7 separate regions of the Homo sapiens genome follow, and all the other regions are linked to region 5. Evidence: fine-mapped expression QTL. A gene starts in region 5. Each other region holds a variant in brackets. All regions are shown on one strand. Distances are from middle to middle.

Region 1 (4,066 bases), 81 kb after region 5:
CCGCATTACACTGTATTAGGTGTGATAAGTAACCTGGAGATGGGAGGATGTGCAGAGGTCCCACGCAAACACTACTGTATAAGGCAGCTGAGCATTGTAGATTTTGGTATCCAAGGGGTGGGGATCCTGGAACCAATCCCCAACTAATACAGTGGAACAACTGTATCTCTTTAAAGACTGTCTGCATGTACAGCCACATTCTTAGGTACTGGAGGTTGGGACTTCAACACAGAAATTTGGTGGGGGGAGGGGGGACACAATTCAGACCCTAATATCCACCTCTCCCCATTTTTTTTTTTTTTTTTTTGAGAGAGAGTGTTGCTCTGTTGCCCAGGCTGGAGTGCAGTGGCATGATCTTGGCTCGCTGCAGCCGCTCCCTGTCTGATTCAAGCGATTCTCTTGGTGCAGGCTCACGAGTAGCTGGGACTACAGGCGCCTGCCACCACGCCTAGCTAATTTTCATATTTTTAATTTTATTTTTATCTTTTTTTTTTTTTGAGACTGGGTTGTGCTCTGTCACCCAGGCTAGAGTGCACTGGCATGATCTCAGCTCACTGCAACCTCTGCCTCTCGGGTTCAAACGATTCTGCGTCAGCCTCCCGAGTAGCTGGGATTACAGGCGCCTGCCACCATGCCCAGCTTATTTTTGTATTTTCAGTAGAGACAGGGTTTCACCGTGTTGGCCAGGCTGGTTTCGAACTCGTGATCTCAGGTGACCCTCTCACCTCGGCCTCTCAAAGTGCTGGGATTACAGGCGTGAGCCACCAAGCCCAGCTTCACCTTCCCTTTGATCCCTGCTTCCCTGTGACCTAATCTGGGCCTTCTCTGAGGACACCAGCCTCCTTCCCGCAGGGGAGCTCTTGTGGTGGGACACATCACACCTTCCTCTCCACAGAGCTCAGAAAAGGGCCTCTCCCAGGGAGGAGTGAGGGGAGGAAAGGTGCCTGGGTCCTGGTGGAGGTGGGTCCCTAAGGAGCTGATGATCTCTAGGGCCCCCAGCCTGGGCCCAGCCCCACCTCTGCCTTTGAACATTTCACACCCATGGGATCAGCCGACAGGAGCCAGGAGAGCGGCACCGTCTTCCTCCTCCCGCGGGTTTCTCCACATCGCTGCCCCCTCCCATTCCCCCCTCTTCACTTTTCTGAGTTCCTGTGGTTTCTGTGGCCTCCTCACCACGTCCCCTTCTCCAGCGAGGCCAGAGCCCCCGACGCCCCGACTTGCTCCCAGCCCTTCCTACCCAAGCCGCCCTCCCAGCCTTGGTCAGACAGGACTGGAGAGGCTGCCTGGGGCCCCGGGACTGGTTTCTGGGCAGCCTCAAGTCTGTTTTCTGGCCTGAGAAGGTTCGGGTTTTCCCTGAGCTGCTTCCCTCCAAAACCAGCTCCCTCAATACCAGCCTCCCACCCCCGCACCCGCCTCTCCTTCATTCAGCAGGGGCTAGGCGCCTGCTCTTCCTCCATAATTCCACACGGAGGGGTTTAGGAAGCCCCACCCAGGCTCCAGACCCCGGAGCTGCACGAGGGCACAAGTGGGCGCTGGAAGGAAGGGCGGGGACGGTGGGAGGTGGGGGAGGGAGAGGCGGGGGTGTCTGACAGGGGTCGGGGCAGGATCTCGCCCCGGGGGGCGCAGGTGCGGCGTGAGGACCGCGTCCTGAGGAGGGAGGGGCGAGGGCCAGGGTCCTGGAGAGGATGGAGAGCCCACGAGTGGCTGCAGCTGAGACCCCGAGGGAGCCCAGGAGGTTTTGTCGGAAGAAGGGCGATCTGGACCTTCCCTGACCAGCGTCTTTGTGTCCTTTGAGCTCCGGACCTGGTCCTGGGTTCCTCCCACCTCGGGCTGTGCTGCAGTTCAGGACGCCGCC[C/A]CCAGGGGGCGCTCCACCTTCAGAGCAGGCGGCACCGCGGAGCCTCGGGCCCCAGAGCCCGCGCTGTCCATGGTCCTGCAGAAGGGAGGCTCCCAAGGGAACGAGTCCCAGGCTCTGGACACGTTTGCAGACAGTACTCTCTAAAAAGGCTACTTTTCGCCACACATTAGAACAAGATCTCCTCCGGGGGAATCACATTAAAGCAAAAACGAAGTCACCATCGTCACTCCACTTCTCTCATCCCAAACCCACCCTCCCCAAGATATAAAGCCCTTCAAAATATTCACACTCTTTTTTTTTTTTTGACAGAGACTCGCTCTGTCGCCAGGCTGGAGTGCAGTGGTGCGATCTCGGCTCACTGCAAGCTCCGCCTCCCGGGTTCACGCCATTCTCCTGCCTCAGCCTCCCGAGTAGCTGGGACTACAGGTGCCCGCCACCACACTCGGCTAATGTTTTGTATTTTTTTTTTCTTACTAGAGATGGGGTTTCACCGTGTTGGCCAGGATGGTCTCGATCTCCTGACCTCGTGATCCGCCCGCCTTGGCCTCTCGAAGTGCTGGGATTACAGGCGTGAGCCAACGCGCCCGGCAATATTCACACTCTTTACAGCGTTATTCCCAAATGACTTCCACCCAGGCACATTAAGCATGTGATGTCCACATAAGAAAATGCGCTCCTGGGGGCTTTTCAGGTCATTCATCTTTGCTTTGTCTGGATTGGGGTCGTGTATATTTCAGGGGCTCTTAGCTGGGCCTCCGTCCTTTCCTTTTCAAGTCAGAATAACACGTTGCAGGGCAAGAAGAGTGAAATATCACTAGAGGATAGACTTGGATTCACCCTAATTTCTAGTGAAGGAAAAATTTTGCAAGTGCAACACTTTATTGTCAGATATAATAGTGACTTACTGGTGTGTGAGTGTGATATGACACTCACTTCAAGCATTAGTTTTCCAAAATAAGATTCAACTCCTTATGTCAAACCCCTAAGTTGTCTGTGATCTGACACCTGTTACATATGTGCATTTCAGATATTTTCCCCCATCTGTTAACTTTTCTTTTACTCTCCTGTTATTTACAGAACAGCAGGACTCTTGCTCCCCAAAACATGAGTTACCCATGAAATGATCCCCTACTGTGGATGGAAAAGAAGAGCCAAGAAGATAAAAATAGCCCTGGAATAAAGAGAACACTAGGTCCATCACAGGAGAGGGTGAAAGGTAAAGAGCCTTAAAAAGGCCAACCTAGGCCGGCATAGTGGCTCACGCCTGTAGTCCCAGCACTTTGGGATGCCAAGGCGGGAAGATCACCTAAGGTTAGCAGTTCGAGACCAGCCTTGCCGACATGGTGAAACCCCATCTCTACTAAATATACAAAAAAATCAGCTGGATATGGTGTCGGGCACCTGTAATCCCAGCTACTTGGGAGGCCGAGGCAGGAGAATCGCTTGAACCCAGGAAGCGGAGGTTGCAGTGAGCTGAGACAGCACCAGTGCACTCCAGGCTGGGTGACAGAGCAAGAATCCATCTCAAGAAAAAGAAAGAAAGAAAGAAAGAAAGAAAGAAAGAAAGAAAGAAAGAAAGAAAGAAAGAAAGAAGTCAACCTAAATGCAAGTGACTTTCAAGAAGAAACACCAATGCTGTTTAATGGAATATAACAAAATCAAGCAGCCAATCACATAAAAATCACAATGTCCAGTATATAGAGAGAAGAAAATCAGAAAAAAATTACATAAATATCACTTTCAATTGTCCAAATTTGACCAGAACTGTAAATTTACAGATCCAAGATACTCAACCTACTTGAAACAAGATATCACTCTCTCTCTTTCTCTTCTCTGTCTTTTTCTATCACACACACTCCTGCTCTCCACACAGAAAGGGACATAATAATCAAATAATTAAAACTCAGTGACAAACAGAAAATATTAAAATTAGTCAGTGAAAAATGCAAACTTCCAACCAAGAAGTAAAAATTAAAATTAGGCTGGGCCCAGTAGCTCACACCTGTAATCCCAGCACCTTAGGAGGCCGAGGTGGGCAGTTCACCTGAGGTCAGGAGTTTAAGACCAGCCTGGCCAACATGGTGAAACCCTGTCTCCATTAAAAATGCAAAAAAATGGCCAGGCGCAGTGGCTAACGCCTGAATCCCAGCACTTTGGGAAGCTGAGGCAGGCAGATCACGAGGTCAGGAGATCAAGACCATCCTGGCTAAC
Region 2 (4,066 bases), 90 kb after region 5:
TAAACCATGAACATAATTATGCAGCTGCGAGTTATTAAGCTTGATGGAGGGGAGCCGGTGCAGTGAGAGAAACAAGGTCCCAACACAATGCAGCCTCTGGGGTCCAGGAGCCCCACTGTTGTGGGGAAATGGGGTCTGGATCCCACGGTAAAGGGACGTCCATAGGAATAAGCGGGGAGGCTGACACAGCCGGGTTCTCAGGTGCGTCTTCCTCATTGGATTCTCCTGGGGCTCTGTCCTGTGAACTTCTCTTCTCTACCTGCAATCAGCTCTTACCCTTTCAAATACCTTTTAATTTTGGTAAAAAGGAAATGCAGAACATAAACATCACCATTGTCATTATGTTTATGTGTACGGTTCAGTTCTGTGAAGCATATTCATTCTGTTGTACAACCAATTTCCAGAACTCTTCCATATTGCAAAATTCACTCTGTACCCACAAAACAGCGACTTTCCATTTTCCCTGTCCTGGGTGCCTGGCAAACACCACTGTACTCACTGTTTCTGTGAATATGACTCCTTTAGAAATCTCAGTAGGTGGAACTGTGCAGTATTTGACTTTTCATGACTGTATTTCCCTTAGGATAATGTCCTCAAGGCCCAGCCTTGTGGTAGCAGGTGTCAGAATTTCTTTTCTTTTTAAGGCTGACAGGTTCAAATGTATGATTTTACCACCTTTTGCTTACTCATCTGCCTCTCCAGAAATCCACCTCTTGGCTCTGGCGAATGATGCTGCCATGAACACGGGAGTATAAATATCTATTCAAGTTCCCACTTTTTTTTTTTTTTTTTGAGACGGACTCTGGGACTCTGTTGCCCAGGCTGGAGTGCAATGACATGATCTTGGCTCACTGCAACCTCTGCCAGTCAGGTTCAAGTGATTCTCCTGCCTCAGCCTCCCGAGTAGCTGGGATTACAGGAGCCTGCCCCCATGCCCAGCTAATTTTTTTATTTTTAGTAGAGATGGGGTTTCACCATGCTGGCCAAGCTGGCCTCAAACTCCTGACCTCAGGTGATCTGCCTGTCTCGGCCTCCCAAAGTGCTGGGATTATACTCGTGAGTCACCATGCCTGGCCCTCAAGTTCCCACTTTCACTTCTTTTCATGTAGACCAGAAGTGGAGTGGCTGGATCCTATGTGAATTCTATTTTTAATTATTGGAGGAATTGTCATACTCTTATCATCCTCTTTCCCCATCATCTCTTGTCATCACTTTATAAAGATTTACTCTAGAGTAGTCCCCCATCCACAGTGGATAGCTTCCAAGACCCCCAGTGGATGCCTGAAACCACAGACAGGGCAAACCCTATATGTGCTACATTTTTATACACACACACACGTATGTATATCGATGATAAATTTTATTTTATTTTATTTTTTTGAGACAGAGTCTTGCTCTGTCACCAGGCTGGAGTGCAGTGGCGTGATCTCAGCTCACTGCAAGCTCCGCCTCCATGGTTCAAGAGATTCTCCTGCCCCAGCCTCCTGAGTAGCTGGGACTACGGGCATGCATCACCATGCCTGGCTAATTGTCTTCTTTGTATTTTTAGTAGAGACAGGGTTTCACCATGTTGGCCAGGATGGTCTTGATCTCCTGACCTCAAGTGATCCACCCACCTCAGCCTCCCAAAGTGCTGGGACTACAGGTGTGAGCCACCGTGCCCAGCCTCCTACTCTTTCTCTTTCTCCTACTCTGGCCTTGTAAGACCTGCCTGCTTCCCCTTCACCTTCCGTCATGATTGTAAGTGTCCTGAGGCCTTCCCAGAAGCAGAGGCTGCTATGCTTCCTGTACAGCCTGCAGATCCTTGAGCCAATTAAGCCTCTTTCCTTTCTGAATTACCCAGTCCCAGGTATTTCTTTATAGCGGTGCTAGACCTGACTATACAATATGTAACATATAGTTTGCAATTTGTAACATTCTACAGGGTACAATTCAGTGACATTAAGCACATTCACCATGTTGTGCAACCACTATTTACCGAATTTCCTCATCATCCCAAACAGAAACTCTGCACCATTTGCACAATCACCCTTC[T/C]TCCTTGCCCTGTTCCCCAGCCTCTGATACGCAATTCTACTTTCTGTCTCCATGAATTTGCCAATTCTAGGTAAGGCTACATAAGCAGAATTATATACTATTTGTCATTTTATGTGTGGCTTCTTTCATGTGGCATGTTGTTTCAAGGTTCACCCATGTTATAGCATGTATCAGTTCCATTCAATTTTTAAGGCTAAAGAATATCCCATATTATGGATATGGAACCTTTTTTCTATCCACTTATCAGTCAATGGACGCGAGTTTTTTTTTTCCCCACCTTTTAGCTCTTGTAAATAATGCTGCTATGAACATTGATGTATAGGTATCTGTTTAAGTTCATGCTTTCAATTCTGGGAACATATCTAGGAATCGATGGCTGGATTACACTGTATTTCTAGGCTTAACTTTCGGAGAGAATTCCAAAGAGTTTTCCACAGGGTCACACCATTTTACATGCAGTGCAAAGGGGCTCCCACTTGTCCATATTCTTGCAAACAATTAGTATTTTTTTTTCTTTTGAGACGGAGTCTCAATCTCTCGCCAGGCTGGAGTGCAGTGGCACCATCTCGGCTCACTGCAACCTCCACCTCCTTGGCTCAAGCAATCCTCCCACCTCAGCCTCCCGAGTAGTTGGGACCACAGGTGCTCACTGCCACGCCCGGCTAATTTTTGTATTTTTTGTAGAGATGAGGTCTCACCATGTTGCCCAGGCTGGTCTTGAACTCCTGACCTCAAGCAATTCTTCCTCTTTGGCCTCCCAAAGTGTTAGGATTATAGGCGTGAGCCACTGTGCCCAGCTTATGCTTTATATTTTAAGAGTTCTAGTGACAGTGCAGTGGCATCTTATGTTTAATTTTTAAAAATTTACTTAAAGTTAGATATGGTTGAATTCATTCTTTATCATATGTAATTTTATGTGGGTTGACCGATGCATATAGTTATATACACAACCGCTGTGAAGACAATGAAAAGTGTCATTACCTGAACATTTCCTCCCTCTGCTGACTCTAGGTAGTCAATCCTCCCTCTACACTTAGTCCCTGAGAAAACACGGATCTATTCTCCATCCCTGCCATTTTGCCTTTTTATAGAATGTCATATAAATGGAATCATACAAAATGTATCCTCTAAAATCTGGCTTCATTTACTTGGCATAATGCTTTTGAGGCTCATCTATGGGGCTGGGTATAAATCTGTCATTTTAGTTTAATTGTTGACTGGTGCTCCATTGTTTTCATGGTCTCTCATTTTGCATGTATTTGCCATTTGCGGAGCATTGCAACTGTTTTCAGGTTCTGGTGACTCTAAAATAATGTTGCTATAAACATTCCATTCAACTTTCTGCGTGTGAACATAAGTTTTTAATTCCCTTGAGTAAAAACCTAGGAGTCGAGTGCTTGGTCAGACGTACACTTGGTCAAGTGTAAGTTTAAATTTATACAAAATTGACAAACTATTCTCCAAAGTGTATATACCATTTTGTATTCCTACCAGCAGTAGACATGAGCTCTGATCACTTCACATCCTTGCTAGCATGTGATATCATCCACATATTTTAAAATTTCTTGTTACCTTTGTTGTACTTTTCAGTCATTTTTCTTAGGTATGTAATTCTACCTCATTCTTCTTCTATTCTACAATTACCTAATGACAAATTATATTGAGGCTATTTTCACGGCCTTGTTCGCCATCTGCTTTTCTTTTTTGGTGAGGTGGCTATGAAATCTTCAGTAGCTTTTTTCTTAATTGTGGTAAAATATACAGAAGAAAAAAATTACCGTTTTAACTATTTTTCAGTGTTTAGAGAAGTTGCACCAAGTACACTCACGTTGTTATGAATCACTATGATTTATCTCCAGAAGTTTCTTCACCTTCCCAAACTGAAACTGCATCAAAGAGGTGAAAACCCCCTATTTCTTTCTGATCACAGCCCCTGGCAAGCATGGCTCTACTTTCCGTGTCTGTGAATTTGCCTCCTCTACACACCTCATATAAGTGGAATCATACAGTGTTTGTCCTGCTGTGACTGACT
Region 3 (4,066 bases), 21 kb after region 5:
TGCCCAGGCTGGGGTGCAGTAGTATGATCTTGGCTCACTGCAAACTCCACCTTCTGGGTTCAAGCGATTCTCCTGCCTCAGCCTCCCCAGTAGCTGGGACTACAGGCGCCTGCCACCACGCCTGGCTAATTTTTTGTATTTTTAGTAGAGACAAGGTCTCACCGTGTTAGCCAGGATGGTCTCAATCTCCTAACCTTGTGATCCACCCGCCTCAGCCTCCCAAAGTGCTGAGATTACACGTGTGGGCCACCGCGCCCGGCCCACGCCTGGCTAATTTTTTTATTTTTAGTAGAGATGGGGTTTCGTCATGTTGGCCAGGCTGGTCTCGAACTCCTGACCTCAGGTGATCCGCCCACCTCGGCCTCCCAAAATGCTGGAATTACAGGTGTGAGCCACCACGCCCGGCCCAAGAGGGATTTTATAAAGTGATTTTCGACAGCTCTTCCTGAACCCCTGACACAGCTCAAGGACTTGTGTGGTTCTGTCCTCTAGGCTTTTCTGTCAAGCGAGTCCCTGGGCACGTGCTAGGGCACTCAGCAAGCAGGACAGCCAAGGCCAGGGAGCCACCCCAGTGACAGATCACTAACTCGGCGGGGGGCAGACAGAGAACTCGTCCCTGAGGTGACATGTGAGCCCCACGTGTGCCCTGTCAGACAAGGTGGCCTTGCTGAGAGCAGGAGGGGCAAGTGCGTGGAGCCCAAAGAGGAAAACCTGAAGAAACACCAGGCGCTCCCAGACGAGAGGGTGTGGCTGGTCGGGGTTGGGCCCCGAGATGGAAACACGTTTTCTGGGCCTGGAGTTTCTATCCTGTGGGGTCATCTCTAAGAAAATGAATCCCAGATAATGAATACAAAATTGCCCAGCCTCTCCTGGGTTTTTTTTTTTTTTTTTTTTTTTGTGAGACGGAGTCTCCCTCTGTCACCCAGGCTGGAGTGCAGTGGCACGATCTCGGTTCACTGCAACCTCCGCCTCCCTGGTTCAAGCGATTCTTCTGCCTCAGCCCCCCGAGTAGCTGGGACTACGGGCACGCGCCGCCATGCCCAGCTAATTTTTGTATTTTTAGTAGAGACAGAGTTTCACTCTGTTGGCTAGGATGGTCTTGAACTCCTGACCTCGTGATCCACCCACCTCAGCCTCCCAAAGTGTGTGTTTACAGGCGTGAGCCACCAGGCCCAGCCTTTCTCCTGGGGTCTTGAAAGAGGCCCTGAAGGTTAAGCTTCATCAGCTTCCTGTAAAATGTGCCCCTGAACAGGACAGGGTGTTACTGAGTTGCCAAATACCTATTAAAATGTTAGATACACGCACATACCCAGAAACATACACACAGCCGGACACACATACACACACACACACACACACACACACACACACACACACACACGAATACACTCTGAGCACAGCATTTGTTATGTTTTGAATAAATGACTAACTAAACATCCATTACTACTACTCCCAATAAAAACACTTATTGCAGCTGGTCACAGTGGCTCACACCTGTAATCCCAGCACGTTGGGAGGCTGAGGCGGGTGGATTACCTGAGGTCAGGAGGTCTAGACCAGCCTGGCTAACATAGCAAAACCTCGTTTCTACTAAAAATACAAAAATTAGCCAGGCGTGGTGGCTCACACGTGTAATCCCAGCTACTCAGGAGGCTGAGGCAGAGTTGCTTGAACCTGGGAAGTGGAGGTTCCAGTGAGCTGAGATCATGCCACTGCACTCCAGCCTGGGCAACAGAGATAGACTCCGTCTCAAAAAATAAAACAAAACAAACCACTGTGTGCCAGGCACTGTTCCAAGGGCTTATTTAATTTTCATTACAACTCAATAAAGTAGATAGTACCATCATCCCCATTGTACAGAGTAGAAAAATGAGGCTTAGAGTGGTGAAGCAATTTCCTCAAGGTCACACAGCAGGAAGTGGACGCAGGCGCTGGGCTTGGAGTCTGAGGTCTGCACTATTCTAGTAGTGAACCCACTGTCTCAGGAAGCAGTGACCACATCAAACTGTCTCCCCCACACCTGGAGCTCAAATTCCAGAAGGGGCGACAGACACCAGAGCAATCAATAAGTAAACAACACTGTGGATTACAAAGTGTCCACACCAGCTTCCCTCTGGGGACAAGCTGGGCTCTCAGAGGGTGCCCCTGCTCCCACCTCCTTCATGGAGAATGTGAGTCACTCCCTCCACTCAGTTAGGTTGGCTCCTTGAACTTTCATCTCTAGCAAACATACTTTCCTCT[C/T]CCTTTCTAGTTGCTAAGTATAGGGGAAAACACAGCAAAACACAGGGACCTGGGGCCTGTGATTTTAAGGAGGCAAGCAGGGAAGTCCTCCCAGAGAAGGTGATGTTTGAAAAGGAGGTGAAAGAGGTCAGGGAGTGAGCACGTGATTCTGGGAACAGAGGTGGATCAGACATGGCCCCTCTCTGCAGGGAGCTACCAGCCTGGGGATGATGGAGTAGGGCAGTGGGGAACATGGGGTAAACAGAGGATCCCAATCCAGTCTGGCGAGGGCTGATGGAAGCAAATCTAGGGACTGCAGAAGCCCCCAGGGATATACCAAGGCAACCTGAGGGTGTAGGGTCAGGGGCTTCCTGGAGGAGGCGATGCCAGGGAGAATCACTAAATTATTATTATTATTATTTTGAGACTGAGTCTAGCTCTGTCACCCAGGCTGGAGTACAGGGACACAATCCTGGCTCACTGCAACCTCTGCCTCCCAGGTTCAAGCGATTCTCCTGCCTCAGCCTCCCGAGTAGCTGGGACTACAGATACGTGCCACCATGCCTGGCTAATTTTTTTATTTTTAGGAGAGATGGGGTTTCACCATGTTGGCCTGGCTGGTCTCAAACTCCTGACCTCAACTGATCCACTCGCCTCAGCCTCACAAAGTGCAGGGATTAGAGGTGTGAGCCACCGCGCCTGGCCGAGAATCACTAGATTTTGATATAATCCATGAGTTGGAGTTGGGCAGGACAAAGGACAGAAAGCAGAGGTAGGAGGGTGGTGCTGGAAGAAGGCATGGAACGGGCAAGCCGCGGCCTGGTCTGTCAGGACAGGAGGAGCAGGTCACAGTGGCAGAAGCACAAAGGGTAAGGGAGGGTCCAAGGAGGGAAGTGGACGGCTGAAGCAGACCATGAAGAGGAGGCTGGACCACAAAGCATCCCAAATGCCAGGCAGAGGGGCTGCGACTCTGTCCTGAGGGTGCTGGGGAGCCACAGGCAGGCTGGGAGCAGGGGAGAGCAGGGTGAGCTCTGGGTGCAGAAAGGCCCCTAAGGCTGGGTAGAGGTGGGCTGAGAGGGAGAGACTGGGAGTGAGGGAGGACCCGGGTGAGGGTCCAGGTGAGACAATGACACCAAGAGACAATAGGGCAAGAAGGGTGGGGGGTGGAGAACTGACAGCTTTGGGAGAAGGGAAAGAGGGTGGGACAGTACCCAGGTCTAATCTGGTGTTTAGGAAGCTGGCAGGGTCTGAATCATTTATTTGTTCTGAAAAGGACATCAACAGACACATCCAGTGAGACAGGATGTAATGCAGGGAGCCCTGGGGCACTGCGGGAGGGGAAGGCAGCACCCTCTGGAAAGGACAGTAGCTGATTCAACGCGGCCTTCACGCTTCCCCTCTGTTCTCTCCCTGAGCACACCAGAGACATCCATGTGCCAGGCTCTGTGCTGAGTGATGCTGGGACCAGAGCTGAGTCAAACGTGGGCCTGCACCATGGGGGAGACGGATCCAATCCCAGACATGCCAGGCGTGGAAGGCCAGGGCTGGGATGGAGAGAAGAGGCCCAGGGAGCTGTAGGACTCCAAAGATGTGACAGTAACGAACAGTCAGAGCAGGGAGGAAACCAAGTGTTGGGTCCCAGGACCCCAAGAGGAATGTGTCTCAAAAGGGCTACAGGTGACATCCCTGTCATGTGCTGCCAGAGGCATCATTAGGACAGGGGGCATTGAGGGAGATGGGAGAGCAGAGTCTAGAGCCAGACTTGCCCGGGGTTTCGATCGTAACTCTGCCACTTACTGGCTGGGAGATCTGACAGGCCTCAGTTTCCTCATCTATCCAATGGAAT
Region 4 (4,066 bases), 260 kb before region 5:
CCCGCCCTGGGGAACTCCTGCACAGACCATGCCAGGCGTGATGGTTCTAGGATAGGCCTTCTGGCACACCTCATCCGGGGAGATGTTGATGTTCACGCATTGCAGAGAGGCGGGGTACCTGGCTGGGGGACACTGCAGGGTTATAACTGGGTCTACCCTCCCATAAGACCCAAGGGTCCAGGCCCCCAGCCCCTCCTCCTTCCGACCCAGGAGTCCAGCCCCAGCACCTCCTCCCTCAGACCCAGGAGTCCAGGCCCCCAGCCCCTCCTCCCTCAGACCCAGGAGTCCAGACCCCCAGTCCCTCCTCCCTCAGACCCGGGAGTCCAGGTCCCCAGCCCCTCCTCCCTCAGACCCAGAAGTCCAGGCCCAGCCCCTCCTCCTTGAGACCCAGGAGTCCAGGCTCCAGCCCCTCCTCCCTCAGACGTATGAGTCCAGGCCCAGCTCCTCCTCCTTGAGACCCAGGAGTCCAGGCCTCAGCCCCCTCCTCCCTCAGACCCAGGAGTCCAGGCCCAGCCCCTCCTCCCTCAGACCCAGGAGCCCCAGTCCCCCCAGCTCCACCTCCTGGAGACCCAGGAGCCCAGGCCCAGTCCCCTGCTTTCCAAGACGCAGGAGTCCTCACCGATGGGGCTGGATATAGTTCCCCAGCCTGACACTCGGCAGGAGGTCCCGGGGCTGGCACAGGCCTGGGTGACCTCAATGGGCCTGACTGCCCTCCCGATCCGTGCGGGCTGCTGTAGCTGCAGCAGCATGAGGTCGTTGTCGTGGGTCCGGGAGTTGTAGTTGGGGTGCGTCACCTGACGAACCACGCGCAGCACCTGCTGGGTGGCCTCCCACCTCCTCAGGTTGTGCTTGCCCAGGGCAACCTGAAGGATCCTGGCCACGACCCCCAAGAGAAGCGCTGCTCAGGGTCTGAGCCAGAGACTCCTCCCCACCCTCCAGCCCGGTTCCCTGGCCGGGTGACGAGTCTTCCCCGAGGTCTAGCCTGCTTCTCACTAACTGCAGGCCGAGCATTCTTGGCCTCCTGTGCCCTTCCCCATGGCCAGGGCATTCTCTCGGCCCAGCCCCAGCTGCCTCTCCTTCCGCTCTTGGGCTGGGCTCCAGCTCCTGGCTTGGGAAGAAGGTGATGATTGGGAGAGCTTGGCTCCGTGCCAGGGTCTGTGCTGGGCTCGGTGCATTGAGTCCTAAGCGAAACTGCGTTATGAGTCTAGGCTCTAAATCGGAACTGATATTCCGGAGTAGGCACCATTCTGTTTCTAGCCTGGGTTCTGAGTTCTAGACATCTTAAACTTTTGACTCTATGCTAAGATCAGGATTCTAGATCGAACCTGGATTATGACTTGATTTATTTATTTATTTTTTTTTTGTGATGGAGTCTCGCTCTGTCACCTAGGCTGGAGTGCAGTGGCACGATCTCAGCTCACTCTCGACCTCCAACTCCCAGTTCAAGTGATTCTCCCGCCTCAGCCTCCCAAAGTGCTGGGATTACAGGCGTGAGCCACCGCACCCAGCCTCTACAGGTCTGTTTCATATTGGATTATAGGGCTCTTGGTTCTGGACTCTGGCCCTAGCCCTTGACCTCAGGTTGGGCTCTGGGTTCTAGTTGGAGCTCTAGGTTATGGCCCGGATCCAAGATTCTAGAGTCTGGTTTGCATTCTGGCCTTTATATTCTAGACTCTGGCCTGAGCTTTGATCTCTAGGTTCTAGACTGACCTGTTTATGGCATAGATATGGCTTATAGGCATTTTGACCTCTTGGCTGGGGTCTGGGTTGTAAGTTCAGATCTAGAATTTAGGAGGGGTCTAGGTTTTATATGGGGCTTCTGATTAGGATCTGCATTCTGGGATTTATTGATTGATTGATTGATATGGAGTTTCGCTCTTGTTGCCTAGCCTGGAGTGCAATGGTGCGATCTTGACTCACTGCAACCTCCGCCTCCCAGGTTCAAGTGATTCTCCTGCCTCAGCCTCCCGAGTGGCTGGGATTACAGGCATGTGCCACCATGCCTGGCTAATTTTGCATTTTTAGTAGAGACAGGGTTTCTCTATGTTGCTCAGGCTGGTCTCGAACTCCTGACCTCAGGTGATCTGCCTGCCTCAGCATCCCAAAGTGCTAGGATTATAGGCATGAGCCACCGCACCCGCCACATTCTGGGATTCAAAC[A/G]CTGGGTTGAAGTCTGCTCATAGCGGAGCTATAGACTAGACTCTGAACTAAACCTTGGGTGTGAAACAGCCTCCAGGTTTTGCCTCTATTCTTAGAGTTGTATGTTCCAGCTGTGAGCAGCGTTCTAGTTCTGGATTTATGGCTAGACTGCAGGTCCTGAACTGGGCTCTGAGTTCTACGTAGTGTCCTGAGTTTCTGAATGTAGACGGGGTCCTGAATTCAGCCACCAATCTGGAATGGGCTAAGCTTGGTCTCGATGTAATGTGTGGCCTCTGGAAGAATCACTGGATCAGATGTTCGGTTCTCAGCAGGTCCATGGGTTCCAAGCTGCCCATCTGCTTTCAGAACCTATGCTGAGTTCGAGATTTATGGAGGAGCCCACATCCCGAGCTGTGTTTTTGTTCCAGGCTCTTCTCTAGACCTCAAACCAGGAGCCAGCCACTACATTGGGTTCTATACAGAGATCCAGGTTCTCAGCTCAGCTCTAGGGCTTTAGACTCTGGAATTCACTAGGTACAGGGACAGGGGAGGGGGTCACTTACGGGCGGCCGCAGTGAGCAGCAGTGATGACCCACTGGCCTGAAAGCAGGGCGCCTCCGCAGAGGAAGCGGCGCCTGGGACCCGCCAGCAGGGCCGCCTGCCACGGCTGGGAGCTCCGGGTGCACGTATGGCCACCAATTATCTTGTTCTCATCCTCTTGGCTCTGTGTCATGGCTAGGAGTGGACAGGATTGGGTGGGGAAAGTAGATGAGCAAACACTCTCCACTCCACAAGTTTGTAGGATTCCAAAACTGACAAATCCCCTTCCTTTTGGTCTAACCCCTAAACTGCCCGCCTCTATCTGTCCCACCCAGGGTGAGACATGCCCAATATTGACCCCGTTATTGCCCCAGCACGGAGAGCTTTCTGACTCACCTCCCAAGTCACCTCCGTAGCATCTCTTATTTTGTGCCGTGGCCACCTTATCCAGGGCCTTGCTACATCTACGACCCTTAGCTCTATGCTCCCATAATTTCTGTGATCACTTCTCGAAATATGCCACATTTCCCCCCAATGAGTCCTTCCCCAACACATTCAAGGACCTCCCTGTCTCCTCCCCAACGTTCCCACTCAGTGGGACCCCAAGGATCCGCCATCTCTTGCCCCACACTTGCCCCCATCCACCTCACACACCCATGCCACGATCCCGCCACCCCATGCCACGATCCCGCCATCCCATCATCCTTCTCCACCTTCCCTCTGACAACAAAACATCTTTCTGACATTGTTTCTTTCCTAACACAGTCAGGTAGAGCCCCGTGATCTTTCTGCTATGACCCACTCAGGACCTAATAGTTCCCTAAGATTCCTTATGTATTTTGCACCAGACCTTATAAACACCTCTCTCCCCGGCCCCACAATTCCCTAGCACCTCCACAACTAGGAATTTAGGCCTCCAGCACGTTCCCCCACCATGACCCCCAAACCACTCCCTGCTCTTTCTTATGAGGTCACCATGAGCATCCAGGGGCCCCAAGGACCCATCCCCATCTCTTCTCAGAGTCTCCAGGGGACCCCCTTGTGTCATACCCAACCGTTCTCTTACCTATAGCCAGGACTTGAAGTGCTGTCAGCAGGAGGAACATTTTAGGGGCTGAGGGCCAGGTCCTGTCAAATGCAGAGAAAAAGTGAGAGAGAAGGAACCTTCAACAGAACCGGGGGCTGAGAGGCAGAGACAGCAAGGGGCACTTACCCAGAGCCCAAGACCCTCAGGGACATGAAGACACAGCAGAGAGGTAGGGACCAGAGACGAGGGGGGCGGGGCCTGCAGGCTCTGCGGGCGGCAGGTGGGAGGATGTGGAGCAGGGCACAGGTCCCTCCTTGATGTCTTGATGAAGGAAGGAGGGGAGGTGTCTCTCTTCCTAGT
Region 5 (4,066 bases):
AACTCCCACTCTTTGCCATTTAACTCCGCTTGTCGACTTTGTCGAGTGTTCCATGCCCAGGAATGTCCGCCCTCTCAGTGCTGGGCCGGCCCGTCAGTCCTGGTCATCCCTGCCACTCTATTTGGCTCCTTCCCTTATCCTCTTTCTGGCCCCGCCTCTTATCCTAGGTGTCTCCGCCCCTCCGCGCTGGCCCGCCCCACCACGGGTATCCCAGCTCCTTCTTGGTGACCCGCCCTCCCGCTGGCCCTGCCCCACCCACCGGTATGCTGCTCCTCCTTGCTGGCCCCGCCCCTTTCCTCTAGCCCCGCCCTCGTTCTGGCCCCGCCCCTCTCCCAGGCATTCCCCTACTCCCGCTCCAGCCTCTCACCCGCCACTGTAAGGTTGAGCAGCGAGCGGCGGCGGCGGCCGGTACGCGGGTTCGCCGCCAGGCAGGCGTAGGTGCCTGCGTGGCCCGGTCCGACCGCGGGCAGCAGGAGGCGCGACCCCGCGGGCACCGCGGCCTCGGCCGGGTCCGCCAGGCTCCACGTGATGTCGGCGGGCGGCCGCGAGGCGGCGGCGCAGCGCAAGGTCACGTTACTGCCCGCGGTGACAAAGCGGGCAGGCGCGGCGTCGCGGTCCGAGGAGACCGTGATGGTCGGCGGGTCCGGGCCGTCTGGAGGGAGGAGGGGTCGGGACCGCGAGTGTCAGGGTCACCTGGGACGCCGCTAGGACTCCCGGAGACTGGGTCCCCAGCCCGCTTCTCCCCAAGGACCCCCTGTCCCCGACCCGAGGCATCCCCCACTCACAGAAGACGCTGACGTCGGCGGCAGCCTCCCTGTGGCCGAAGGGGCTGCGGACGCGGCAAGTGTACCGGGCGTGGTCGCTGCGCACAGGGCGCACGATGAGCAGCTGGTCGCCCTCTGAGCGCATCCGGGGCGTCTCGGCTCCCTCCGATTCCGCCGCCTCCAGGGCGCGTCCGTCCCGGCTCCAGCTCAGCTCCCCGCGACCTGGCCCCCACCCCAGGCAGCGCAGCCGGAGCTCGGCCGCCCCCTCCTCTGTCTCTGGAGCCTTGGGCTGAACCGACAGCTGGGGTAGGGGCTCTGGGAGAGGGAGAATGGGCTCAGGACCCACCCAGTCCTGGAGCCCATCTTTGGTCCCCTTAGAGGGAACCCCAGCCGCTGCTCCCTCTAAGCCCCTGGAGTCTCAGCCCCCATCCCTCTCCTCTCATAAACCTATGAGTTTGAGCCCCCAGACACCTCCTCTCCGGGACCCAGGAGTTCGCCAGAAGAGGCTCCTAGCCTCCTCCTCCTCCCTCAGACCTGGGAGTTCAGGCTCCCAGGAGTCTCCATCCCAGGTCCACCTTTGCTCAGACACCCCTGCCTTGACCTCTAGCTCTTTTTCTCCCTTCCTCAACCCAGAAGTCCTCTTCTCCTATCCAGGGACCCCACAGCACCGTGACTTGCCCAAAGCCTGGCAGAGCAGAGCAGCCCCTGCCGCCTGCACGCCGGACGCCAGGGCCCACTTACCATACACACCCACCGTGAACTCGTGAGTCTGCTGGGAGACCCCTGCCCGGATGACCTCAGCCGTGTAGACCCCTGCATCGTCCAGCTGGGCAGAGGCGAGCTCCAGAACCCCCCGGGCCTGGTCAAATCGCAGGTGGTCTCGGTGAGCAGGGTCCAGGCTGATCAGAGGTGCCCCTGGCCCCAGGCCCCCAGCTGCCAGCACCTTTGAGCCCCGGCGCCAGACCACCAGAGAGGTGGGGGGCCCAGGGTTGGGGATTGGGACTAGGGGGAGCCGGATGGTGGTCCCCACCAGCACAGCGAGTGGGCCCCCCACCTGCTGGGGAAAGCTTGCAGCTGAGTGGGTCTCTGCAGAAAATTTGGATTCAGGGCTCTGGGCAGAGAGTTTAAGATCCATATCATCCGGGGAGAATTTTGAATCTGGGGCCTCAACAGACAGTTTGGTATGGGAGACTTGAGTAGAAATGTTTGAAGCTGGGGTCTTAACAGTGAAGGAAGGCTTGGGGTCTTTGGCAGGAACTTGAGGATCCGAAATATCAGGAAATACTTCAGAACCAGGGGTTTCAGAGAAGGGGGAAACCGGGCTCAAATCTTGGCCCTCAGCAGAAACATTTGACCAGAAGGACCCAGACATGTTGGAACTCAGGGCCTCAGGAAACCAGCTGGAATCAGAGATTCCAGCAGAGGCTTTTGAATCCAGGAACTGATCTGGAACTTTCCAGCTGGGAGGTTTGATGGAGGGAACTTCCACACCCAGCCCCTGGGAAGAGCTCTTTGAGTCTGAAGAGAAGGCAGAGGAGAAGTTGGTTTGCTGAAGTCCAGAAGAGGCTCTGAGGGTGAGGATCCCTACCAAGGAGGCTGCAGAGAAGAGAGGAAGGCATTGGGGGAGGCTGCTGAGGGAGACTGACAGGGAAGGGACTGAGCAGGGAACTTACCCAGGAGTAGGAAGAGTGGCAGAGCCTGTGGGTTGTCCATGGTGCTGGCCTCACTGAAAGGACACTGGAGAGAGACCCAGGACTGCACCCATCCCTCCCGGGTCAGACGAGTCCAACAGGACTGGTAGCTTAGCTTCCTGGGAGGGGAAGGGAGCCAGACCCAGAGGGAGGTGCCAAGATCCTCAACCCCAGTGTGGTGGCTGAGCTGCCCACCTCATCCCACTCTCTTCATTAGCTGGTCCCATCTGCAGAGAGGCCCAGCCTGATCCCTGCCCTCCCCACCCCCAGGGGGAAGCTGGAGAAAACATTCCCAGCTAAAAATGTGGGAGCAAATTTGTGAGACAAAGCCAGGAAGACTTCCTGGAGGAGGGTGAGGTGACCTTTCCGAGAGCCCCACCTCTGATGGCCACAGCTTCAGAGCAGGCTTCCTCCTCCCCAGCCTCCTGGCTCCTTCCACTCTGTCTTGCCTGCAGCCTCAGATACATCTGACCCTGCTCCTCCTCTGCTCCAAACCCTCCCACGGCTCTCTGTTGCCCTCAGAACCAAGTCTCCAGGTGCTATCTCCTGCCAGGGCCTCTATCCTGAGACCAGAGCTGCATTTCCGCATCCCCGAGGCCCTCACATGGCCTGTGTCCCGCTAAACTCAGACTCTTTCCTCTAACCCAAACTTCCTCACACCTCCAGGATGGCTTCACTGTCTTCGCAAATGCTGGAGAACATTCCCACCTCCTCCCTCCCTGTCACCACTGTCGATCTGAGTCCAACCCTCCTCCCCCTAGTTCTCACTGGCCAGGCTCTGTCTTCTCTTCCTGCCCCGTCTCCCTCCTCTGCCCAGTCTCCTCCATTCCCTGCCAGGGTCCTTCTATACCCAGAGCTGAACCTGCCTCCCCCTGCTCACAGCCCTCCCCTGGCTCCCCAGTGCCCTCTGGAGACATCCAAGGTTCAAAGCAAACTCATGCACAGCCCCCACTCAAGCACTTGAACATCCTGCCATTCTTATCCTGCCCGCCCATCTCACCTCCCAGTCCTCTACCTGGAATGCTCTCTCCCACTCTCCACCTCCCTCCAACCTGGCTAAACCACAACTTGTCCTTCAGGTCTCACCTTATTAAGAACCATAATTACCACTTAATTTGAGCCAGGAACTACGCTAAATGTTTCCTATGCACTATCAGGCTGAACACTTCTAAACACCCTATAAGCTGAGTGTCATTATACTCACTTTGCAGGCCAGGGGACTTAGGCTCAGAGAGGTCAAGGGACCTGCAGGAGGTTGCACAGCCAGAGGGAGAAGCTGGACTTGGGACCAGGATGGTCAGACCATTGACTCCTTCTGATAGCTTTTCCCACCATCCCATGTGGAGCTTAGGGCCTCTGCTCAGCTCCCAGTCCTCTAAGCTTACCCTGGCCCAGTTCTCACCAGTAATAATACTGGTAATATATATATATTTTGAGATGGAGTCTCGTTCTGTCACCCAGTGAGTGCCTCAGCTCACTGCAGGCTCCATCTCCCGGGTTCAAGTGATTCTCCCGTCTCAGCCTCTGCAGCAGCTGGGAGTATAGGTGTGCATCACCACACCAGGCTAATTTTTGTTATTTTTAGGAGAGATGGGGTTTTGCCATGTTGGC
Region 6 (4,066 bases), 81 kb before region 5:
GGAAACAAACTAAATAGGCAGTCCCTTGGCTATTTTTATCTGTAATCGTTAAAATGAAAGTGGCTGAGGCGGATCCTGATGCTGGCCCAATCTTGGGCTCTGGCCAGCCTGAGCTACAGCTGCTAGCCTCAGGGCTGTGGCTAAAGGGAAAAGTTAGGCTGAAATGACAGATGGCAAAGAAAATTAGAGTGGTTCACCAGAGAGTGAGAAAAGACGAACATTTCCAAGAGGGTGGAAATCTTTATAAACAGTTATTAAGAAATGAGATGAGTTAAGTGGACATTGAGGGAGTCTAAACAAAGGTCTCAGTGGAGCACTCTTAGAAATTAGGTGGAGCAGTGAGAACCTAGACTTGCCCTCCAGTGTTGAAGGTCCCCCATCAAGTCTGCTATATTTACCCTAGTTTGGAGGAATTTTAGAAGCCAGAAGGCAAACATGACAATGGGAAATCTGACCTCAGATCTCCTGAGGGGACGAACATGTGATCTAATCAAGATAAATGACAAAAGGGCCTGGGTTGCTTGGCCTGACCCCTAACTGAAGACCCAAAGTCATATGCATATTAGTAGTAAAATAGTCAGGGGATGGATAAGAGATATTTCTGGGACTCATGTGGGAGTCTTATACCTGCATTCCAAAAGGTTGGTGAAATTCTAATAGCATCTATGGTTAGATTGCGAAGACATAGGATTACAAAGTGGATGAGATTCAGGCGAAACTTTGGATGAAAATTGGAATGTTTGGACAGACTATGTAAATATGTTATGTGAATGTATTTACCTAAATGTATTATGAGGAAAGATATTGTGTCCAACTATGGAAGAGTTCCCCTACGTACTATTATGAAACAGAAGGCATGTAAATCTTCCCTTCAACCAATATTGATTGAATATGCTAAATAGGAACCAATAAGATTGCCCAAGCCCACACTAATTGTTAATTTGAAACAGTACAGGATATCTGGTGGACAAAACATGTTAGAAGCTTAACGTTTGCTTTATTTAGGCAGACTGGAGCTAAGGCCAGTGAGCACCACCCAGTGGTGAATGCTGGGATTTGGGGCCAGAAAATTTCCAATGGAGAGACAACTAGCTGCCTATTGGGCTTTGAGTCTGCCCCATCATTGAAGGATATAATAATCCTGACACCTGAAATCCTCATGATGTGTTTGTCATGTTGGAAAAACACTGTAGTAAGGAAGGCCATGCCCAAAAGAGTCTCGTAATAAAATGGAAATTGTTTATACAGGAACATGCTACCAGGGAAATGCAAGGAGGTCCTCGTTATATTTATGAACAGGTGGCTTTTTCCCTACTGAAGAGCTGCGAGATCCTATTATTACTTGAATGATGTCTATTAATAGCTCTTGATTGACCAACTAAGAGCGGTTTGATTTATGGATGGCAATTCCAAAGTGAATTAATAACATCCTGTTTGGAAGACTGGCACTCATACTGAGGAAGGCAAAAACAAGTCACTTCAGTGGGCTGAACTGCCTCCACATTTGGGTTTTTACCAATTCATGGGCAGTGGCCAATGGCCTGGCCATATGGTCAGGCAGATGGGCAATGGGAAACTGTACTATTAAAAGGATGCCTATATAGGGTACAGCCTTATGGAATTCACTATAGCCAGTATCTCAAAAGACCTGTTCATACCCCCTACAAATGATAAAATAAACAGAGAAACAGACCTCTTCCTCCCAAAAAGGCAATTAATATCCTACCTTTTATG[C/T]TGGACATTTCTTGGCAACTTTTAAAGGATTTTTACTACTTGTGTGTGCGTTCTTAAACACTTGATTTTGCCCGGTTTTTTTCAAATTTTAAAGAAATGCTCATACATTATTACTTATTTGTGTCTGGCTTTGTTCATTCAATATTTTATTTGTAAGAATGGTCCATGTTGTTGCATCTAGCATTAGCTCATAGGTTTTTGTTGCTGTGTAGTATCTCATTTTTTAAAATTCTCTGTTTACTGGCATTTGGATTGTTTACCTTTTTAGCTATTTTTAAATAATACCACTGTAAACATTTTTGCATTCCTTTGTGGCGTACATATGCACAAACATTTCTATAAAGTATACATCTGGGAGTGGAATTGAGGGTCATAGAGTATGTGTATCTTCTGCTTTGATAAATAACTTTGTTGCCCTGATTTATATTTCCACCAATAGTGTGTGAAAGTTGAGTACCACATTCTCACCAAGACTTGATATATTGTCTTGGATATGTACTGGTATCTGATGGTTTTAACAGGCATTTTGCTGGTTATTAATGAGATTTTAAATATTTTCATGGAAATTTTATTAAGATTTGTCTTATGATCCAGCTGTGGCCAATTTCTGTAAACGTTCTCTGTGTGCTTACAAAGAAATTGTATTCTGCAGTTATTGATTGCAGTATTCTCTATATATTTTTGGTCAAATTTGCTGATCAAGTTGTTGAAATCTTTATATATTCCAATAGTCTGTTTGTTCTGTCAGTTTCTGAGAGAACAGTGATTAAAATGTCACACTACTATTGTGGATGTCTGTTTCTCCTTTTATTTTTGTAGATTTTTTGCTTTATATATTTTTGGACTATGTTAGTAGGCAAACACAAATTTTAAATATATACTTTATTCCTGTTAATGTCAGCTTATCATTAGGAGATATGCCATTCTATCTTTGGTAATGCCTTTTGCTTAAAGTCTGCTTTATGGGATGTTAATGTAGGTATGTCTACATTACCTGGCTTTCTGGTTGGTATTTGCTTGGTGTATGTTTTCATTCTTTGGTTTTTTCTTTTTTTCTTTTTTTGAGACGGAGTCTTGCTCTGTCGCCCAGGCTGGAGTGCAGTGGCATGATCTCGGCTCACTGCAAGCTCTGCCTCCCAGGTTCATGCCATTCTCCTGCCTCGGCCTCCTGAGTAGCTGGGATTACAGGGGCCCGCCACCACACCCAGCTAATTTTTTGTATTTTTAGTAGAGACGGGGTTTCACCGTGTTAGCCAGGATGGTCTGGATCTCCTGACCTCGTGATCCGCCCGTCTCGGCCTCCCAAAGTGCTGGGATTACAGGCATGAGCCACCGCTCCCGGCCCATTTGGTTTTTTAACTGTCCTTTACACTTATGCTTTGGTTGTGTCTTTTGTAAACAGCATGGAGTTTGGCTTTGCTTCTTTTTTCCAATATGATGATCTTAGATTCATAACTGGATAATTTAAGCCATTTATATTTAGTTAAATCACTGATGTATTGGAGTTTAAATCTAACATCTAGGTACATGATTTCTACTTGTCCCAACCGTTCTATTCTCTTTTGTATCCCTTCTGTTTGTTTCTCTGTCTTTATTTTCAAACAAGCTTTTAAATCAAAGTACAATTTTATACAGAGAAGTATTAATACAGATAGTAAGTATACAACTCAAATTATCACAAAGGGAGCAGACCAGTGTAACCACCACTGAGGTCAAGAAATAGAACATTAACAACACCCCAAACACTCCACTCATGTACTACACCATTCATTACCCCCTTTATCCTTGCTATGTTCTGGATGCAAGCACGTTGTATGTGTTGCAAGTATGTTCTCCAGCCCTGCAACTTGCATTTGTCCTCCTTAATGGTATCTTTTGATGCAGAAATTAATTCTGATACAGTCCATTTTATCCATATTTCCTCATAGCTAGTGCTTTTTGGCCCTTTTAAAGAAATATTTCCTTACCTAAAACTTACCAAGATACTCTCCTATGTTGTATTAAAGAATTCCACTGACCAATGTGGTAGCTACTAACTACATATGGCTATTGAGCCCTTATATTATGGCTAGTCTGAATTGAAGTGTGCTGTAAGTGTAAAATATATACAAGATTTTGAAGAGTGTATAAAGAATGTACCAAATCTTAACAATTTTGTGTTGATTGCATGTTGAAATATTGGGTTAGGTTCAATATGAATAACCTAGTGAATAACCTAGGTTTCTTTCACTAGGTTAAATGAAACATCATTAAAATTAATTTTACCCATTTCTTCCTTTTTAATGTGGCTGCTAGAAAATTTAAAATTATACATGTAGTCCACATTTATAGG
Region 7 (4,066 bases), 95 kb after region 5:
GTGCTGGGATTACAGGCGTGAGCCACCATGCCCCAGCCCAGCTTCTCCTTCTATTTTAAGGCTGAGTAATATTCAATTGCATGTATACAATACACTTTGTTTATTCATTCACTTTTTAGGAATAGCAGGGTTGCTTTTCCCTTTTACCTACTGTGAATATGCTTCTGTGAACACAGATGCATAAAACTATGCTCAAGTTCCGGCTTTTGATCTTTTGGGCCATATACCCAGAGGTGAAATTGCTGGATCATAAGATCATTCTATTTTTAATTTTTTTGAGGAACCCCACTACTACTCTCTAGAGCAACTTCACCATTTAACTTTCCCATCAGCAATGCACAAGAGTTCCAATGCATAAGAGATCACATGGACAGCTCAGCAAGCTGAATAATGGCCACCCAAAGAAATACAGTCTCAGCTCCTTGAACTTCTAAATATTACCTTACAAATAAAGTGTCTTTGTATAATTTTTTTTGAGACAGTCTCACTCTGTTGCCCAGGCTGGAGTGCAGTGGTGCGATCTCAGCTCACTGCAACCTCCGCCTCCCAGGTTCAAGTGATTCTCCTGCCTCAGCCTCCTGAGTAGCTGGGATTACAGACGCCCGCCGCCACACCCAGCTAACTTTTGCATTTTTGGTAGAGACCAGGTTTCACCATGTTGGCCAGGCTGGTCTCGAACTCCTGACCTCGAGTGATCCACCAGCCTCAGCCTCCCAAAGTGCTGGGATTACAGGCATGAGCCACCATACTTGGCCACTGTGCAGAGAATACTGTAGCCACATGGAATACATGTGGTTAGGGCACTGTGTTAGCTAGTCTGGGCTGCCATAGCAAAATACTATAAATTAAGCCTCCTATAAACAACAGAAATTTATTTCTCACAATTCTGGAGGTTAGAAGTCCAAGGTTAGAAGATCAAGTTGTCAGATGATTTGTTTTCTTGTGAGGCTCTGTTTCCTGGCTTGTAGATGCCACCTTCTCACTGTGTCCTCACATGGTTGAGAGACAGCAAGTTCTGTGGGGTCTCTGCTTATAAGGGCACTGTATTAGTCCGTTTTCACACTGCTGGTAATGACATACCTGAGACTGGGCAATTTACCAAAGAAAGAGGTTTAATGGACTTACAGTTCCACGTGGCCGGAGAAGCCTCACAATCATGGCAGAAGGTGAAAGTCATGTCTCATATGGCGGCAGACAAGAGATGAGCTTGTGCAGGGAAACTCCCCTTTTTAAAACCATCAATCTTGTGAGAATTATTCACTATCATGAGAACAGCACAGGAAAGACCTGCCTCCATGATTCAATTACCAGCCGCAATGTCCCTCCCACAACACGTGGAAATTCATGATGAGATTTGGGTGGGGACACAGCCAAACCATATCAGGCACTAATTCCATAGTGGGTCCCCACCCTCATGACCCCATGTAACATAATTACCTACAAAAAGCCCCATCTCCAAATACATCACATTGGTGGTTAGGGCTTCAACATATGAATTTTGGGGGAACATAAACATGCAGTTCATAACAGGCATTTTACTGAAACCTTGTCATCTCCCATGCCATGAGTTTAGATCAACAAATAATCATGCGGAAAAAAAATCTATATAGAAATTTCTTACAGCAAAGCCTCTGCTCATTTTTTCGATAATCTCATTTTTTTAAATTGCAAGGAACAGAAATGAAAACCGATAGCTTAATCTGGAAAAGAAGGGTTTTATTAAAAAAACACGTTTGCTTAATTTTTGGCCCAGGCAGTGGGGAATCTGGGAACATCTCCTAACTCAAGGTCAAGATCAGCACATCACTGATATCCAATGTGACCCTCAGGGTGCTGTTTCTTGCTCTCCGCATGGTGGGCTGCAGGTGCCTGAGCCATCTTCATTCTCTGGCTAGCAATGTTCGTGCAATGTGAGGTCTCCCCAGCTCAAGGCTCATGCCGTTCCTGCAGCTGAAAGGGAGAGCAACACCTCCATCCTGTAAGCTCCAACAGCATCTTCCCGACAGCCACGAGGAGCCACATCCAGTTCTTTCCTCCATGTTTTTATGAGCGAATAGGTTGACTGGAGTTTGAACTTCTGGGTTCAAACCCTCAGAAGTTCAAGGTTCAATCCCCCATTGACCTATTCCCACACTCGATATCCATGATAAGAATGATTCTCAGGGTACATTGGGCTTGTTGACAAAGAAAGGAGGATTTTTTATAAGAATTTCCATCTCTGACTTTTGTCCAACAATTAGATTCTATTCCTTGTTTCTAAATGAAAATATGAAGAAACACATCCTTTCGGAACTAAAATAAATAACACTTTGAAGTTGAAACAGAGAAAATATGAGGCTGCACATGGAATTAGTAGGAAATTATGCTCTCATTTGAGGTTATTCTGATTTC[G/T]CCAAGGAAGATTTAAGCTCAAAAGGTAAGGTGGACAGGGAATCACCCCATGGTGAGACACATAGGGATATTCGGGCATAGAGTACAAGCTAATTAAGCTTGATATGTACGAGGAATTTCTCTTAGTAATCAATGAGAATGTGAAGTGTACAGAAAATAACTTTTGATGAACAAGGAAGAGCACATGAATTTACATACAAGAAATCTTTCCTCACTGGGCAAAAAGCTCATTCAATTTCTTTCTTTTTTTCAAGCCAGAGTCTCTGTCACCCAGGCAGGAGTGCAGTGGCATGATCTTGACTCACTGCAGCCTCAACCTCCTTGGTTCAAGAGATTCTTGTACCTCAGCCTCCCAACTAGCTGGGATTACAGTCGTGTGTCACCACGTCCCACTAGTTTTTTGAATTTTTGGTAGAGATGAGGTTTTGCTATGTTGGCCAGGCTGGTCTCAAACTCCTGGCCTCAAGTAATCCTCCCAGCTTGGCCTCCCAAAATGCTGGAATTACAGGTGTGAGCCATCATGCCCAGCTTTATTCAGTTCCTTAAGGAGGATGAGCAGCATTGAGCGGATGGGAATGTGCCTTCTCTGGAGACAGGTTTGCATGTAGAGATGCCATCATAATTTATAAGGACAGGTTTTCTCTTTTTTCCTATTTTTTAGAGATGGTGTTTTGCCATGTTTCCCAGGCTAGTCTCCAACTCCTGGGCTCAAATGATCCACTTGCCTTGACCTCCCAAAGTGCTGGGATTACAGATGTGAGCCACTGTGTATGGCTTTCTTTTTTCCTTTCCTTTTCTTTTCTTTTCCTTTTTAGACGGAGTCTCACTCTGTCACTCAGGCTGGAGTGCAGTGGTGCGATCTCGGCTCACTTCAACCTCCACCTCCTTGGTTCAAGCGATTCTCCTGCCTCAGCCTACCGAGTAGCTGGAACTCCAGGCGCGCACCACCATGCCCAGCTAATTTTTGTATTTTTAGTAGAGACAGGGTTTCACCATGCTGGCCAGGATGGTCTCCATCTCTTGACCTTGTGATCCGCCCACCTCGGCCTCCCAAAGTGCTGGGATTATAAGCGTGAGCCACCGCGCCCGACCCCAGGACAGGTTTTCTAAGGCTCATGGCCCTTGGCCATTTGCTGCATGATCTCCATCTCCATAGGGCTTTGTAGCAGCTCTCATTGCCTCTCCCACAATTCATGCATCAGGCAATGCCCAGGAACCACAAGAGTATAATTAATATTCACATTCAAAATCATAGTTGTTTCTATTCAATGTTATAGCATGCTTTTTTTTTTTTTTTTGGCTTTTAATGAAAAAAAGCATTGATTTCTGTTGTCTTGGAAATCAGAGGGGTAGACCTGGCTTCAACGGTGGCTGGATTTCAGGGTCCGATGATATAAGGGCTCATCTCTCTGTTTGCTTTTGGCTCTTGTTCTTGTTTGTTGTTGCTGCTGTGGTTGTTCATTTATTCTGCCTGGTTTTTGTTCTCAGGCTAATAAATGTAGGAGCTCTGATGTCCACTTTGCAGATGAGGACGCTGAGGCATACAGAGATCAAGTAATTTCCCTTCTGAGGCAGAGTCCGTGGACTTCCCACAGCCCCATGACACCCCCTTATGGCTGTGTATCCAACTCAACATTCCCTGCCCTGATCAGGGCGCCCCCTGCTGCTCACCCAG

What was found. PIP is the estimated chance that this variant, and not a neighbour inherited with it, causes the effect.
Region 1: its variant is the best candidate, but not a certain one, in a credible set for the expression of VSIG10L in whole blood (TOPMed, PIP 0.85).
Region 2: its variant is the best candidate, but not a certain one, in a credible set for the expression of VSIG10L in whole blood (TOPMed, PIP 0.88).
Region 3: its variant is the best candidate, but not a certain one, in a credible set for the expression of VSIG10L in esophagus muscle (GTEx, PIP 0.86).
Region 4: its variant is the best candidate, but not a certain one, in a credible set for the expression of VSIG10L in caudate (GTEx, PIP 0.76).
Region 6: its variant is the best candidate, but not a certain one, in a credible set for the expression of VSIG10L in cerebellum (GTEx, PIP 0.83).
Region 7: its variant is the best candidate, but not a certain one, in a credible set for the expression of VSIG10L in whole blood (INTERVAL, PIP 0.64).

Annotation. Positions count from the first base shown.
Region 1 is chr19:51,420,242-51,424,307 of GRCh38, forward strand. No RefSeq gene overlaps it. Among named protein-coding and RNA genes, the nearest start is that of SIGLEC10, 4.6 kb to the left of the region's middle. The variant C/A (reference allele first, on the strand shown) is at 1,856.
Region 2 is chr19:51,429,322-51,433,387 of GRCh38, forward strand. No RefSeq gene overlaps it. Among named protein-coding and RNA genes, the nearest start is that of SIGLEC10, 14 kb to the left of the region's middle. The variant T/C (reference allele first, on the strand shown) is at 2,035.
Region 3 is chr19:51,360,824-51,364,889 of GRCh38, forward strand. The region is part of intron 1 of ETFB (electron transfer flavoprotein subunit beta); the gene reads right to left. Among named protein-coding and RNA genes, the nearest start is that of ETFB, 3.5 kb to the right of the region's middle. The variant C/T (reference allele first, on the strand shown) is at 2,242.
Region 4 is chr19:51,078,830-51,082,895 of GRCh38, forward strand. It overlaps KLK14 (kallikrein related peptidase 14), which reads right to left and starts at 4,058. Exons shown (of 6, transcript NM_001369775.2): 1 at 3,893-4,058; 2 at 3,746-3,807; 3 at 2,703-2,874; 4 at 620-873; 5 at 1-122. The coding sequence starts at 3,785. The variant A/G (reference allele first, on the strand shown) is at 2,161.
Region 5 is chr19:51,339,648-51,343,713 of GRCh38, forward strand. It overlaps VSIG10L (V-set and immunoglobulin domain containing 10 like), which reads right to left and starts at 2,492. Exons shown (of 10, transcript NM_001163922.3): 1 at 2,438-2,492; 2 at 1,506-2,360; 3 at 786-1,079; 4 at 368-652. The coding sequence starts at 2,477. It overlaps VSIG10L-AS1 (VSIG10L antisense RNA 1), which reads left to right and starts at 373. Exons shown (of 5, transcript NR_186316.1): 1 at 373-1,070; 2 at 1,419-1,527; 3 at 2,203-2,338; 4 at 4,041-4,066. RefSeq lists a silencer at 257-526.
Region 6 is chr19:51,258,510-51,262,575 of GRCh38, forward strand. All of the region lies in intron 1 of SIGLECL1 (SIGLEC family like 1), which reads left to right. All of the region lies in intron 2 of LOC107985327 (a long non-coding RNA gene), which reads right to left. Among named protein-coding and RNA genes, the nearest start is that of SIGLECL1, 9.5 kb to the left of the region's middle. The variant C/T (reference allele first, on the strand shown) is at 1,735.
Region 7 is chr19:51,434,378-51,438,443 of GRCh38, forward strand. No RefSeq gene overlaps it. Among named protein-coding and RNA genes, the nearest start is that of SIGLEC10, 19 kb to the left of the region's middle. The variant G/T (reference allele first, on the strand shown) is at 2,392.